Linked DNA regions of Homo sapiens: region 2 is linked to region 1. The links come from fine-mapping of genetic effects on gene expression. Tissue or cell type: T cells. Region 1 holds a variant in brackets; the other region holds the start of a gene. All regions are shown on one strand. Distances are between the middles of the regions.

What was found. PIP is the estimated chance that this variant, and not a neighbour inherited with it, causes the effect.
Region 2: it holds the start of CYP4F12, and the variant in region 1 is fine-mapped to the expression of CYP4F12 in T cells (TOPMed, PIP above 0.99). The same link has a PIP of 0.9 or more in blood mononuclear cells.

What each region holds. Positions count from the first base shown.
Region 1 is chr19:15,778,740-15,786,845 of GRCh38, reverse strand. It overlaps the pseudogene CYP4F24P. Among named protein-coding and RNA genes, the nearest start is that of OR10H5, 4.9 kb to the left of the region's middle. The variant G/A (reference allele first, on the strand shown) is at 4,378.
Region 2 is chr19:15,669,318-15,677,423 of GRCh38, reverse strand. CYP4F12 (cytochrome P450 family 4 subfamily F member 12) reads right to left here and starts at 4,337. Exons shown (of 13, transcript NM_023944.4): 1 at 4,289-4,337; 2 at 3,697-3,895. The coding sequence starts at 3,894.

The DNA.
Region 1 (8,106 bases):
ACTATGAAACAATATTGCTTACGAAGTTTAAATAACGAAATGTAATTTTGGAAATATCTTCAAGGATAAAGCATTGTAAAGAGCGGCAGGGTTGATTTGAAAAAAAAGATATATAATTTTTAGAACCAAAGCTACAATATTAATATCCCAGGAGAAGTTTAATGCATGTCAGACACAATTGAAGAGAGAATTAGTGAGTTGGGGGCCGGGCGCGGTGGCTCATGCCTGTAATCCCAGCACTCTGGGAGGCTGAGGCAGGTGGATCACTTGAGTTCAGGAGCTCAAGACCAGCCTGGCCAACATGGCGAAACCCCATCTCTACTCAAAATACAAAAATTAGTCAGATGTAGATTCTGGATATTAGCCCTTTGTCAGATGAGTAGATTGCAAAAATTTTCTCCCATTCTGTAGGTTGACTGTTCACTCTGATGGTAGTTTCTTTTGCTGTGCAGAAGCTCTTTAGTTTAATTATATCCCATTTGTCAATTTTGGCTTTTGTTGCCGTTGCTTTTGGTGTTTTAGACATGAAGTCCTTGCCCATGCCTATGTACTGAAAGGTATTGCCTAGGTTTTCTTCTAGGGTTTTTATGGTTTTAGGTCTAACATTTAAGTCTTTAGTCCATCTTGAATTAATTTTTGTGTAAGGTGTAAGGAAGGGATCCAGTTTCAGCTTTCTACATATGGCTAGCCAGTTTTCCCAGCACCATTTATTAAATAGGGAATCCTTTCCCCATTTCTTGTTTTTGTCATGTTGTCAAAGATCAGATAGAAGGACCTCTTCAAGGAGAACTACAAACCACTGCTCGATGAAATAAAAGAGGATACAAACAAATGGAAGAACATTCCATGCTCATGGGTAGGAAGAATCAATATTGTGAAAATGGCCATACTGCCCAAGGTAATTTATAGATTCAATGCCATCCCCATCAAGCTACCAATGACTTTCTTCACAGAATTGGAAAAAACTACTTTAAAGTTCATATGGAACCAAAAAAGAGCCCACATTGCCAAGTCAATCCTAAGCCAAAAGAACAAAGCTCAGAATCTACAATGAACTCCAACATATTTACAAGAAAAAACAAACAACCCCATCAAAAAGTGGGTGAAGGATATGAACAGACACTTCTCAAAAGAAGACATTTATGCAGCCAAAAGACACATGAAAAAATGCTCGTCATCACTGGCCATCAGAGAAATGCAAATCAAAACCACAATGAGATACCATCTCACACCAGTTAGAATGGCGATTATTAAAAAGTCAGGAAACAACAGGTGCTAGAGAGGATGTGGAGAAATAGGAACACTTTTACACTGTTGGTGGGACTGTAAACTAGTTCAACCATTGTGGAAGCCAGTGTGGCAATTCCTCAGGGATCTAGAACTAGAAATATCATTTGACCCAACAATCCCATTACTGGGTATATACCCAGAGGATTATAAAACATGCTGCTATGAAGACACATGCACACGTATGTTTATTGCGGCACTATTCACAATAGCAAAGACTTGGAACCAACCCAAATGTCCAACAATGATAGACTGGATTAAGAAAATGTGGCACATATACACCATGGAATACTATGCAGCCATAAAAAATGACGAGTTCATGTCCTTTGTAGGGACATGGATGAAGCTGGAAACCATCATTCTCAGCAAACTATCGCAAGAACAAAAAACCAAACACCGCATGTTCTTACTCATAGGTGAGAACTGAACAATGAGAACACATGGACACAGGAAGGAGAACATCACACACCAGGGACTGTTGTGGGGTGGGTGGAGGGATAGCATTAGGAGATATATCTAATGTTAAATGACGAGTTAATGGGTGCAGCACACCAACATGGCACATGTATACATATGTAACAAACCTGCATGTTGTGCATATGTACCCTAAAACTTAAAGTATAATAAAAAAAATTAGTCAGATGTGGTGGTGAACACCTGTAATCCCAGCTACTTGGGAGGCTGAGGCAGGAGAATCGTGTGAGCTCGAGAGGTGAAGGTTGCAGTGAGCGGGATGGTGCCACTGCACGCCAACCTGGGCAACAGGGTGAGACTCTGTCTCAAAACAAACAAACAAACAAACAAATAAATAAAAATAAAAGAGAGGGAAGAAAACATTAGGGTCAGAATGAGAAAGTGTAACCTTTGTTTAATTAGAATTTCAGAAGTAAAATAAAAAATAGGGCACAGGCATTGTTTGAAGAAATTGTGGCCAAGATTTTTCTAAAACTGATTGAAAACAGTTTAGATTCGAGAACCTCAATGAACCCCAAGCAACCATAAAGAGAAATCCACACCGTAACACATTGTGTTAAAACTTCAGAAAAAAAAAGAGAGAAAAAAATAACAGTAGTTAAGAAGAGGGGAGTAAAGAGAGAGATTAATTCTAAGGAGATGGACAGCTAACTTTTCAATGCCAAAAGTAAAATCTGGAAGACTATAGATGTCCTTTTCCATGTGCTTAAAGAAAGTAATTGCAATCTAGATTTTTTTTTTTTTTTTTTTTTTGAGACAGTGTCTCACTCTGTCACCCAGGCTGGAATGCAGTGGTGAAATCTCGGCTCACAGCACCTCTGCCTTATGGGTTCAAGCGATTCTCCAGCCTCAGCCTCCTGAGTAGCTGGGACCACAGGCACATGCCACCATGCCTGGCTAGTTTAGTTTTTGTTTAGTTCAGTTTTGTTTTTTGTGAGATGGAGTCTTGCTTTGTCCCCAAGGCTGGAGTGCAGTGGTGCGATCTCGGCTCAGTGCAAGCTCGGCCTCCCAGGTTCACGCCATTCTCCTGCCTCAGCCTCCCAAGTAGCTGGGACTACAGGCACCCGCCACCAGGCCCAGCTAATTTTTTTGTATTTTTAGTAGAGATGGGGTTTCACAGTGTTAGCCAGGATGGTCTCGATCTCCTGACCTCGTGATCCGCCTGCCTTGGCTTCCCAAAGTGCTGGGATTACAGGTGTGAGCCACTGCGCCCGGCCAGTTTTTGTTTTTGTTTTTTGTTTGTTTGTTTGTTTGTTTGTTTGAGACCAGTTTTTGTATTTTTTATAGAGACACGGTTTTGCCTTGTGGATCAGGCTGGTCTCCAACTCCTGGGCTCAAAGCAATCTGCCCACCTGTTCATGAAACTCTGGCCTTGCTCCCTGAGTCTGACAGGAATGGAACTGCCAGCAGGTGAGGTCTGTCCTTGCAGAGGGGGTGGGTATATTGGGTGATGCACCCCACTTACTGGGGGCTGTAAGTCCAGCTGCCTGATGTGGGGAAAAGAAAGAGAGATCAGACTGTTACTGTGTCTATGTAGAAAAAGGAAGACATAAGAAACTCCATTTTGATCTGTACAAAGAAAAATTGTTCTGCTTTGAGATACTGTTGTTAATCTGTAACTTTAGCCCCAACCCTGTGCTCACAGAAACATGTGCTGTATTGAATCAAGTTTTAAGGTATTTAGGGCTGTGCGGCATGTGCCTTGTTAACAATATGTTTGCAGACAGTATGCTTGATAAAAGTCATCGCCATTCTCCATTCTCTATTAACCAGGGACACGGAAAGCCACAGGGACCTCTGCCCAAGAAAGCCTGGGTATTGTCCAAGGTTTCCCCGCACCGAGACAGCCTGAGATATGGCCTCGTGGGAAGGGAAAGACTTTACTGTCCCCAGCCCGACACCCGTAAAGGGTCTGTGCTGAGGAGGAGTAGTGAAAGAGGAAAGCCTCTTTGTGGTTGAGATAAGAGGAAGGCCTCTGTTTCCCACATGTCCCTGGGAAGGGAATGTCTCAGTATAAATCTGACTGTTCATTCTATTCTGAGATAGGAGAAAACCGCCCTGTGGCTGGAGGCGAGATATGCTGGTGGCAATACTGCTCTGTTACTCTTTGCTACACTGAGATGTTTGGGTAAAGAGAAACATAAATGTAGCCCATGTGCACATCCAGGCACAGTACCTTCCCTTGAACTTATTCATGACACAGATTCTGTTACTCACACGTTTCCCTGCTGACCTTCTCCCCATCATCACCCTGTTCACCCTCTTCTCCCTCGCACTCCCCTTGCTGAGACAGTGAAAATAGTAATCAATAAATATTGAGGGAACTCAGAGACCGGCACCGGTACAGGTCCTCGCATGCTGAGTGTGCCAGTCCCCTGGGTCCACTGTTCTTTCTCTATACTTTATCTCTGTGTCTTATTTCTTTTCTCAGTCTCTCGTACCACCTGACGAGAAATACCCACAGGGGTGGAGGGGCTGGCCCCCTTCAGCCTGAATCCCCTGGCTGATTGAGCTGGCAGTGGTGGTGGGGTGGGGGAGGTCTAGGGGCTCCCCAACACCCAGCTAGTGTCAGGAGCACTGTCTTCCCCACCCTCCTGCTCAGCAGCTCTGCTAGGA[G/A]CCCCATCCTTCAAGACCCCCTTCTCCCGAGTCTACCCCATAGGGCAATTCTGGACAGGATCCAGGGAGGGCCAGGAGGAGAGCCCTGGATCTGTTGGGTGGAGCATCCTGGGTGTGGGAGGAGGAGCCAGGTGCTGATTCAACAGCCTCCAGATAGCTCCCCTCTGGGCCACCACGCTGCCTGAAATTCCTCCATTATAAATGTCCCTGTATTAATATGGCATTGACCCTAATGAATGGGGGTGGAGCAGCACGGCAGAAGGAAAGGATTTGGACTTGAGGGTCTCATAGACCTGAGTTCCTGTGAGCTCTGCAACTTGGGCTAGAGGCCTGGCCTCTCTGAGCCTCAGTTTGCTTTTATGTTAAATGGACATCTTCCCTCCTCTGGATGCCATCATTTGGGTCTCTCCAACAATCCCCGGGACTCTGGCCTAGAGAGCTGATGGGAGGGTAGTGGGACAGCTTTGGGCGTTGTCATCCAGCTGGGCATCTGATACAAGCAGGTGTGGTTTACGTAGAGCACCTGACACACAGTAGGTGCACTTTATGTAGAGCACCTGGCACACAGTAGGTGTACTTTACGTGGAGTACCTAACACATAGTAGGCACACTTTATGTGGCATACCTGGCACACAGTAGGTGGTCTTTATGTAGTGTACCTGGCACATAGTATGTGTGCTTTATGTCAAGTATGTTGCACAGAGCAGTTTTATTTTATGTACGGGGCCCAACATACAGGAGGAACATTTTATGTAGGACATCTGGCACACAATAGGTGTGCTTTATTTAGAACACCTGGCACACAGCAGGCATGGTTTATATAAAGGACCAGGGACTCAAGATACAGGATTTGTGAAGGGCGCCCAGCATACAGTAGACACTCTTTATGTGGAGCACCTGGCACACAGTAGGTATGCTTTATATATGGCATGTGGCACAGAGTAGGCACGCTTTGTATAAAGTACTCTGCACAAAGTAAGCTTACATTATGTAGAGCATGCTGCACACAGTAGGTGAGGTTTATGTGGTGTACCTGGCACATAGTAGACAGAATTTATGTAGAGTACCTGATACACAGTAGGTGCACTTTATATAGTGAGACTGGCACGCAGTAGGTACACACAGTAGTGTTTTCCATACAGTCTTTCGCATGGAGTAGAGACAGGCACACAGCAGCTCAAGTGCTAGTTGTCATCCCCTTCCCTTCAGTCCCTCTTTTTGGAGCTCTCTCTTCTTAGGAGCCTTCCTCTGTCGCCCTCTAAGGCCTCATCTGACATCCCATTTCCCAGATGGGAAGCCTGAGCCCAGGATGGCCACATTGCCCACAGTCAGAGAAAGGACAGGTCAGAACAAGGACTACACTCGGGGTCCCCTCGCTCTGCCCTCCCCTGCCTGGACCCCGTCTGCTCACAGCCCCTCTCAGCCTCATCCCCTATGCCTCTGCTCTGTCCTCTAAGCTGAGCCCAGCCTCTAGATTTGCTCCTCCAGCTGGGCTCTTTATCCCCAGACTCTGACCCAGGTAATCCTCAGCAGGGTTGGGACTGGATTCTTTCTTCCTGCTTCAAGCAGTCAGGTCTCAGCTCAGGCCCTGGGCTGCCTGGAGGCAGGACTTGAACTCTTGCCAGGCTGTGAAGCCAGAGATGAGAGGCTTCTGTCTCTGAATCTCCTAAGTCTGTACCAAGATGCAGCACCTGACATCCTCCCCGCCCATGTTTGGAGAGGAGCCCAGATGATCTGGGACAAGGGTTGGCCTGGCCCAGCTCAGGTGGCTGTGAACTCTCAAGTTCATGCTTTTACCTGCCACATCCTTGCCTTGAAAGGGCAGGGTGGCTGTAAACTTGGGGCTCAGAGTCCCCTTTAACCACTCCCCAACTTCCCCTCTAAACTGTGAGGGAGATGCTGAGACCTGAGGATCCAGTCCCCATACTGGGGCACCCTGAGCTGGTTCCTCTGCACCCAGCTGGCCAAACCCCAGGTTTTGGCCGGCATCTCCCAGGCAAGGGAGATGCACCCAGGCTGTGGAGATTGACTGGCCCAGCCCAGCGCAGCCCAGCCTCCCACGACCTTTCCCTAAATCAGGGGCCAGAGGCAAAGAACTCCCAGCAGAAGAGGAGAGGAGGTTGTGTGGTACAAGCTGCTCCTGACAGAAGGTGCCAGGCTGGGGGTGGTCAGACTGGAGCCTCCTGGCCTGGGATGGGGAGGGGCACTGCCCAAGGCTGGGGTGTCTCCAGGCTGCTGGCCTGGGAGACTGGTGGTTTCCTGGTAACCGGACCCCTGGCAACCTCCCAGTGATTCAGGCTGGGCCTTTCTGGACTCTAATCAGTCTCTCTCTCTCTTCTCCTTTCTGGGTGGTTACTAGGCAACTAGAGGCCACTTGGCTATTGGATTTGGCTGGGGCTTTCTGGAATTTAGCTCTCAGTCCTTGTTTATTCATCCCAGAGCCCTCCCTTTCCTGCCTCCACCCACCCCTTCCCTGCTTCTCTCCACTGTCCCTGGAGCTCCCTGAGACTTTCCCTGGGCCTCAGGATCTCACCCTCCATCCTGTCTGCCCTGCAGGATGCCGCAGCTGAGCCTGTCCTGGCTGGGCCTCGGGCAGGTGGCAGCATTCCCGTGGCTGCTCCTGCTGCTGGCTGGGGCCTCCCGGCTCCTGGCCGGCTTCCTGGCCTGGACCTATGCCTTCTATGACAACTGCCGCCGCCTTCAGTACTTTCCACAACCCCCAAAACAGAAATGGTTTTGGGGTCAACCAGGACCTCGTGAGTGTGGCAGCAGGATGACTCTGGGATCTCAGGGTGGATGGAATTCCCAAAGGGCAGGAAGGGGGATCAAGGAGCTGGGTTTAGAGGGTGGCTGAGGTGTGGGCCGGCAGAGAAGCGAGGGAGGCGGCTCATTCACTCACTCCTCTACCCATGCACTCACTCCTCTCCTCACTCACTCACTCCTCTACCCATGCACTCACTCCCCTCCTCACTCACTCACTCCCCTCCTCACTCACTCACTCCCCTCCTCACTCACTCACTCCCCTCCTCACTCACTCCCCTCCTCACTCACTCACTCCCCTCCTCACTCACTCACTCCTCTCCTCACTCACTCACTCCTCTCCTCACTCACTCACTCCTCTACCCATGCACTCACTCACTCCTCTACCCATGCACTCACTCACTCCTCTACCCATGCACTCACTCACTCCTCTCCTCACTCACGCACTCCTCTCCTCACTCACTCACTCCTCTCCTCACTCACTCACTCCTCTCCTCACTCACTCACTCCTCTCCTCACTCACTCACTCCTCTCCTCACTCACTCACTCCTCTACCCATGCACTCACTCACTCCTCTCCTCACTCACGCACTCCCCTCCTCACTCACTCACTCACTCCCCTCCTCACTCACTCACTCCCCTCCTCACTCACTCACTCCCCTCCTCACTCACTCACTCCCCTCCTCACTCACTCACTCCTCTCCTCACTCACTCCTCTACCCATGCACTCACTCACTCCTCTACCCATGCACTCACTCACTCCCCTCCTCACTCACGCACTCCTCTCCTCACTCACTCACTCCTCTCCTCACTCACTCACTCCTCTCCTCACTCACTCACTCCTCTACCCATGCACTCACTCACTCCTCTACCCATGCACTCACTCACTCCTCTCCTCACTCACGCACTCCTCTACCCATGCACTCACTCACTCCTCTCCTCACTCACTCACTCCTCTACCCATGCACTC
Region 2 (8,106 bases), 110 kb after region 1:
GGAGAGAAATGAGTGAGTGAGGAGGGGAATGAGAGAGTGAGCAGAGGAATGAGTGAGTGAGGACAGGAATGAGTGAGTGAGGAATGAGTTGAGTGAGGAGAGGAATGACTAAGTGAGCAGAGGAATGAGTTGAGTGAGGAGAGGAATGACTAAGTGAGCAGAGGAATGAGTGAGTGAGGAGAGGAATGAGTGAATGGGTAGAGGAATGAGTAAGTGAGGAGAGGAATGAGTGAGTTGGTATTGGAATTAGTGAGGAGAGGAATGAGTGTGGGTAGAGGAATGAGTGAGTGAGGATATGAATGAGTGAGTGAGCAGAGGAATGAGTGAGTGAGGAGAGGAATGAGTGAGTGAGGACAGGAATGACTGAATGAGGGGAGGAATGAGTGAGTGAGGAGAGGAATGAGTGAGTTGGTATTGGAATGAGTGAGTGAGGAGAGGAATGAGTGAATGGGCACAGGAATGAGTGAGTGAGGAGAGGAATGAGTGAGTGGGGAGAGGAATGAGTAAGTGAGGAGAGGAATGAGTGAGTGAGGAGAGGAATGAGTGAGTGGGTAAAGGAATGGGAGGAAGGGAATGAGTGAGGAGAGGAATGAGTGAGTGGGTAGAGGAATGAGTGAGTGGGTAAAGGAATGAATGAGTGAGGAGAGAAATGAGTGAGTGAGGAGGGGAATGAGTGAGTGAGGAGAGGAATGAGTGAGTGAGGAATGAGTTGAGTGAGGAGAGGAATGACTAAGTGAGCAGAGGAATGAGTGAGTGAGGAGAGGAATGAGTGAATGGATAGAGGAATGAGTAAGTGAGGAGAGGAATGAGTGAGTTGGTATTGGAATTAGTGAGGAGAGGAATGAGTGTGGGTAGAGGAATGAGTGAGTGAGGATATGAATGAGTGAGTGGGCAGAGGAATGAGTGGGTGAGGAGAGGAATGAATGAGTGAGAAAAGGAATGAGTGAGTGAGGACAGGAATGACTGAATGAGGAGAGGAATGAGTGAGTGAGGAGAGGAATGAGTGAATGGGCACAGGAATGAGTGAGTGAGGAGAGGAATGAGTGAGTGAGGAGAGGAATGAGTGAGTTGGTATTAGAATGAGTGAGTGAGGAGAGGAATGAGTGAATGGGCACAGGAATGAGTAAGTGAGGAGAGGAATGAGTGAGCCGTCTCCCTTGGTTCTCTGGGTTCCCAGACCCCAGCCACCATCAATACACAGCTCCCTGAACCCCTACTGGAAGTCCCACCCCTCTGGAAGTCCACCCACCCTGAGACGCCAGACCCCATCCAATCCATTGAGGGCATGAACAGGACAAAAGGCAGAGGAAAGGAAGAACTTGCTCTCTCTTCTGCTGCTGGGATATCCGTCTTCTCCTGCCCTCAGAACTCCAGGGACTCAGGCCTTTCTGGACTCAGGCTGAATTTACACCACCAGTGTCCCTGGTTTCTGGCTTGCAGATGATATATCATGGGACTTCTTGGCCTCCATCATCACATTATCCAATTCCCATAATAAATTCTTATCTCTCTATCTCTTTCTGTCTCCATACATACATGCATTAGAGATAAGAAGAAACACCCTATCTGTTTCTAAGGAGATTCCGTTTCTAGGGAGAACCCTGACTAATGCACCTCCCTAGATGAAGCCACAGCAAGTCCCCCCACAGCCACCGGATGTGGTGCAGCCTCTGCAGTGAGCAGCGTGTCTGGATTCTCAGCAGCTGCAGTGGGTTTCTGCTGACTTCTGCTCCTTCTCTCTTGGAGCTGTCCCCAAGATCCAAGGGTAAATACCAAAGCAGAGAGAGAAGACAAGCTGTCTGCTCAAGAGGATGTGTTTTCTCATCCTGGATTGATTTCAATCTGGGGATTGCTATATGGGAAGGTCCCCATGGAAGGAGGTTTGTGGGCAGCAGTGTGGCCTCAGGACATATCCCTAGAGCTGGTTGCCATATCCTTTTGTGTCCTGGTTGGTCCACATGGGCACTGGTTCCTCCCACAGACAAAGGGCCTGCGTCCTGAGGGCCCTCCATTCTCAGCAGCCTCCAGGGGAGCAGAGGTGACTCTAATGTCCATCAGGATGGCAGCTCCCACCTAGGAGAGCCTCACTTATGCCAGGTTCTGTGCTAGTGCCTCCTGTGCACCTGTGGACACACCGATCAATCCTGCCTTTTGTAAGTGAGCAGACAGAGGCCACATCCCCCAAAGGGGAGGGCCGGTCCCAGTCGGAGGGAAAGGTTTGGGAGTACCAAGGACGGCTTCTGAAAGGGGAAGGGAGTGGCCAAATTATATCCAGGTTGGGCTACAGGGCTCACTGGGACATCTTACTGGGGAAGAGCACATTGTCCCTGGAAGGAGAGGGTGTGGGAGACTGCCTGCACTTCTCTTCTGGTCCAGCTGTGTCCCTCCGTGGGGAAGGAAGTCAGAGATAATTCCTGCGGGAAAGCAGCAGCCCAGAGATGGGCAGATACAAGCAAATGGGCCATGCAGGGAGCAGCCTGTCTATCGGGGCTCAGAAGGCTTCAAGTCCAGCAGTGGAGAAGGTGGGAATGCCAGGAGAGCCCTGCTCTGTGCACCCCACAACCATACAGGAGCCTCTGGGAGGGGCACTACGGTAGGGAAGACAGGCAGGAAAAGGATCCAAGCAGGCTGAGGTGGGAGGACAGGGAGGTGAGAAAGGTTTGGCATGGAACTGCAGAGGAATGAATGAATGAGGAAAGGAATGAGTCGGTGGGTAGAGGAATCAGTGAATGAGGAGAGGAATGAGTGAGTGAGGAGAGGAATGAGTGAGTGGGGAGAGCAAAAAGTGAGTGGATAGAGGAATAAGTGAATGGGTAGAGGAATGAGTGAGTGGGCAGAGGAATGAGTGAGTGATGAGGGGAAGGAGTGAATGAGGAGAGGAATGAGTGAGCAGAGGAATGAGTGAGTGAGCAGACGAATAAGAGTGAGGAGAGGAATGAGTGAGTGAGGAGAGGAATGAGTGAATGAGAGGAATGCGCGAATGAGAGGAATGCGCGAGTGAGGAGAGGAATGAGTGAGTGAGGAGAGGAATGAGTGAGTGGGTAGAGGAATGAGTGAGTGAGGAGAGGAATGAGTGAGTGGGTAGAGGAATGAGTGAGTGAGGAGAGGAATGAGTGAGGAGGGGAATGAGTGAGTGAGGAGAGGAATGAGTGAGTGAGGAGGGCAATGTGTGAGTGGGTAGAGGAGTGAGTGAGTGGGTAGAGGATTGAGTGAGTGGGTAGAGGAGTGAGTGAGTGGGTAGAGGAATGAGTGAGTGAGGAGAGGAATGAGTGAGTGAGGAGAGGAATGAGTGAGTGAGGAGAGGAGTGAGTGAGTGAGGAAAGGAGTGAGTGAGTGGGTAGAGGAATGAGTGAGTGAGGAGAGGAATGAGTGAGTGAGGAGAGGAGTGAGTGAGTGGGTAGAGGAGTGAGTGAGTGGGTAGAGGAGTGAGTGGGTAGAGGAATGAGTGAGTGGGTAGAGGAATGAGTGAGTGGGTAGAGGAGTGAGTGAGTGGGTAGAGGAGTGAGTGAGTGGGTAGAGGAGTGAGTGGGTAGAGGAATGAGTGAGTTAGCAGAGGAATGAGTGAGCCATCTCTCTTGCTTCTCTGGGGTCGCAGACCCCAGCCACCATCAATACCTAGCTCACTGAGCCCCATTCCTGCTCCTCTGGAAGTCCATCCACCCTGAGACCCCAGACACATTTTGCTGTCACACTCACCAGGCCCAGGTGACCCCAAAACCAGTTCCGTTTTGGGGGCTGTGGGAAACACTGGAGCCGGCGGCAGTTGTTATAGAAGGCATAGGTCCAAGCCAGGATGCGGGCGAGTAGCCAGGAGCCCACAACCAGCAGCAGGAGTAGCCATGGGGACGTTGCCACCGGTCTGAGGCCCAGCCAGGGCAGGCTCAGCAGCGACATCCTGCAGGGCAGAGGGGATGCAGGGTGAGGACCTGAGGCCCAGGGAAGAGCTCCGGGGACAGTGTATAGGGGCGAAGTCAGGAACTGCTGGGGGCAGGGCAGGGAGGGCTCAGGGGTGAGTAAACGAGGGCTGAGATCTGAAGTCCAGAAAGTCCCAACCAAAACCAACAACTAAGTGGCCTCCAGTAACCTGGTAACCACACAGAAAGGGAAAGAGATGGGCCGATTAGAGTCCAGAAGGGCCCCACCTGAATCCTTGGGAGTTTGCTAGGAGTCCAGTTACCAGGAAACCCCCAGTTTCCCATGCCAGCATCTTGGAGCCACCCCAGCCTTAGGCAGTCCCCTCTTCATCCCAGGCCAGGACCTTCCAGCCCTGCCACCCCCAGCCTGGTACCTTCTGTCGGGAGCAGCTTGTCCCACACAACCTCTTCTCCTCTTCTGCTGGGAGGTCTTTGGCCCTGGCCCCTGATCTAGGGAAGGCCGTAGGAGGCGGGGCTGGGCTGGGCTGGGCTGAGGCAGCCAATCCCCACAGCCTGGGTGTGTCTTCCGTGCCTGGGCAGCCAGCCAAAACCTGGGGTTGGGCCCACTGGGTGCAGCTCAGGGTGCCCCAGCACGAGCACTGAATTCTCAGGTCTCAGTACCTTCTTGGGAGTTTGCAGGGGAAGTTGGAGGGTGGTTAGAGGGGACTCTGAACCCCAAGTTTACCTCCACCCTGCCCTTCCAAGACAAGGGTGTTCAGATAAAAGCATATACTTATCATGACAGTTGGCAGCCAGCTGAGCTGGGCCAGGCCAACCCTTGTCCCAGATCATCTGGGCTCCTCTCCAAACATGGGCGGGGAGGATGTCAGGCACTACATCTTGGTGCAGACTTAGGAGATTCAGAGACAGAAGCCTCTCATCTCTGGCTTCACAGCCTGGCAAGAGTTCAAGTCCTGCCTCCTGGCAGCCCAGGGCCTGAGTTGAGGCCTGACTGCTTGAAGCAGGAAGAAAGAATCCAGCCCCAACCCCGCTGAGGATTACCTTCGTCAGATTCTGGGGATAAAGAGCCCAGCTGGAGGAGCAAACCTAGAAGCTGGGCTCAGCTTAGGAGGACAGAGCGGAGGCACAGGGGATGAGGCTGAGAGGGGCCTTGAGCTGACGGGGTCCAGGCAGGGGAGGGCAGAGCAAGGGGATCCCGAGTGGAGTCCTTGTTCTGCCCTGTCCTTTCTCTGACTGTGGGCAGTGTGGCCATCCTGGGCTCAGGCTTCCCATCTGGGAAATGGGATGTCAGATGAGGCCTTAGAGGGCGACGGAGGAAGGCTCCTAAGAAAAGGGAGCTCCAAAAAGAGGGACTGAAGGGAAGGGGATGACAACTAGCACTTGAGCTGCTGTGTGCCTGTCTCTACTCCATGCGAAAGACTGTACGGAAAGCACTACTGTGTGCACCTACTGTGTGCCAGTTTCACTATATAAAGTGCACTTACTGTGTATCAGATACTGTACATAAATTCTGTCTACTATGTGCCAGGTATGCCACATAAAGCTCACCTACTGTGTGCAGCATGCTGTACATAATGTAAGCTTACTTTATGCAGAGTACTTCATATAAAGCGTGCCTACTCTGTGCCATGTGCTGTATATAAAGCATACCTACTGTGTGTCAGGTGCTCCACATTGAGCATGTGTACTACGTACCTGGTGACCCACAGAAAGCGCACCTACTCTGCATCAAGTAATCTACATAAATCTTGTCTACTGTGTGCTGGCTATTCTACATATAGTGCACCTACTGTGTGCCAGGAGCTCCACATAAATACTGTCTACTGTATGCTGGGAGCCCTTCACAAATCCTGTATCTTGAGTCCCTGGCCCTTTATATAAACCATGCTTGCTGTGTGCCAGGTGCTCTAAATAAAGCACACCTACTGTGTGCCAGATGTTCCACATAAAATGCTTCTCCCGTGTGTTAGGTCCCCTACATAAAGTAAAACTACTCGGTGCAACATACTTGACATAAAGCACACATACTGTGTGCCAGGTACACTATATAAAGTGTGCCTTATTGTGTGCCAGATATGCTACATAAAGAGCACCTACTGTGTGCCAGGTATGCCGCATAAAGTGTACCTACTATGTGCTAGGTACGCCACATAAAGTACACCTACTGTGTGCCAGGTGCTCTACATAAGGTGCACCTACTATGTGCCAGGTGCTCTATATAACGTGCACCTGCTTGTATCAGATGCTCACCTGCATCACAGTGCCCAAAGCTGTCCCACCACCCTCCCAACAGCTCCCTAGGCCAGAACCCTGGGCATTGTTGAAGAGACCTGAGTGATGGCATCCAGAGGAGAGAAGGTGTCCATTTAACACAAAAGCAAACTGAGGCTCAGAGAGGGCAGGCCTCTAGTCCAAGTTGCAGAGCTCATAGGAACTCAAGACTATGAGACCCTCAAGTCCAAATCCGTTCCCTCTGCCATGCTGCTCCACCCCCATTCTTTAGTGTCAATGCCATATTAATATAGGGACATTTATAATGGAGTAATCTCAGGCAGTGTGATAGCCCCAAAGGGGAAATATCTTGAGGCCCTTGGATCAGCACCTGGCTCCTTCTCCCACATGCAGGATTCTCCTCCCAACAGATCCAGGGCTCCCCTCCTGGCCCTCCCTAGATCCTGTCCTGAATTGTCCTGTGGGGTGGACTCAGGTGAGGGGGGCGCTTGAAGGAGGGGGCTCCTAGCAGAACTGCTGAGCAGGAGGGTGGGGAAGACAGTACTCCTGACACTGGCTGGGTACTGGGGAGCCCCTAGACCACCCCCACCCCACCACCCCTGCCAGCTCAATCAGCCAGGGGATTCAGGCACCTGGTCCTACAGCTTCATTCGCGTAGGGTGCATCCCCCAAAATCCCCACTACCTCTGCAAGGACAGACCTCACCTGCTGGTGGTTCCATCCTTCTTAGGCTCAGGGAGCAAAGCCAGGGGTTGATGAACAGGCAGGGTCCTAGGGACACAGAAGAAAGTGCCCCCAGTGGCTAGAGGGGCTCAGCTCACTGCAGACCTCCTGTGTGCCTGGGATGGGCAAGCAGGTTAGAGCAGGAATGGCGGCCATCGACATTGCCAACATGAGTCATGGAGCCTGTTTTAAGTCTTTTAACTATATTAACCATTTTGTTTTTCCATTTTACAAATGAGAAATCCAGTCTGGAAAATATTTGAGTGACTACCCACAGTCATAGAGCTGGTGGATCTGGGCTGTGCACCCAGACCACCCACCCAGCCTCACATTGTGCCCCCCTCACCACCAGGCTGTGCTCCTTCACGTCCGTAAATGGGCGTTTCAGCAGCAGCACCTCACAAGGTTGTTGCAATAACGAAAACAGATTATGCATGCAAAATGACATTTCAGGGATAAAAAGAAGGGAGTAAAGGGGAAGTTCATCTACTAAACATGTGTTAAGTGGCATCATCTCCCCTCACATGTTGTCACCAATTCTCTCAGCAGAGCAGATCTTTGCTGTCCAAACAGCCTGCAACTTCTCCCCTGATAGCCAGACTGGGTATTAAGCCTTGCCTGTCATCCTCTACTCCTACTCCCACTAAGCAATAGTAGCAGAATAGACAAAAACAACTCCTCCTCCCATCCCCACCTGGGGAGCAGAGCCATCGGCATTGCCAACATGAGTCATGGAGCTCAGGAACAGCCACCAGCACCTGCACTCACCATTCAATCTCTTTAGGCTCCCAGACCTTCAGAAACTCTTGCCTTTCCTGCCCGCAGCGCTCCTGGCATTCTGGGTGCATTGCAAGGTTGTACTGGACCCAGGAGAGACCACTGGTCCTGGTGTCATAGCCTGAGGGGCAGCCAGGCAGTCTTGGGTCTCTGGGCTGCTTCAGCACAACAGGGTGGACAGCACCCATGGATTGAGGGCCTCAGAGAGGATGGGGGAAGGGGGATGGGAAGGGTGAAGCCATCCAGGGTCCACCCACCACGTCCCTGGGATGAGACATCTTGGTCCTCACTGGGATCCTCTCCCTCAAACATGAAGGTGTCAGCCTACACTCTTATGTCCTCATCAGACAACTCCTTCCCATCTTCATCCTGGAGAGAAGGAAAAACACCCTTGAAAACCACACAAGCTCTGAGGACTCCTCAGTCTAACATGAAATAAACTCTGAAGATCCATCCTCTTTCCAGAAACCCAAGCCCAGCTTGCACTCCTAGATGTCTC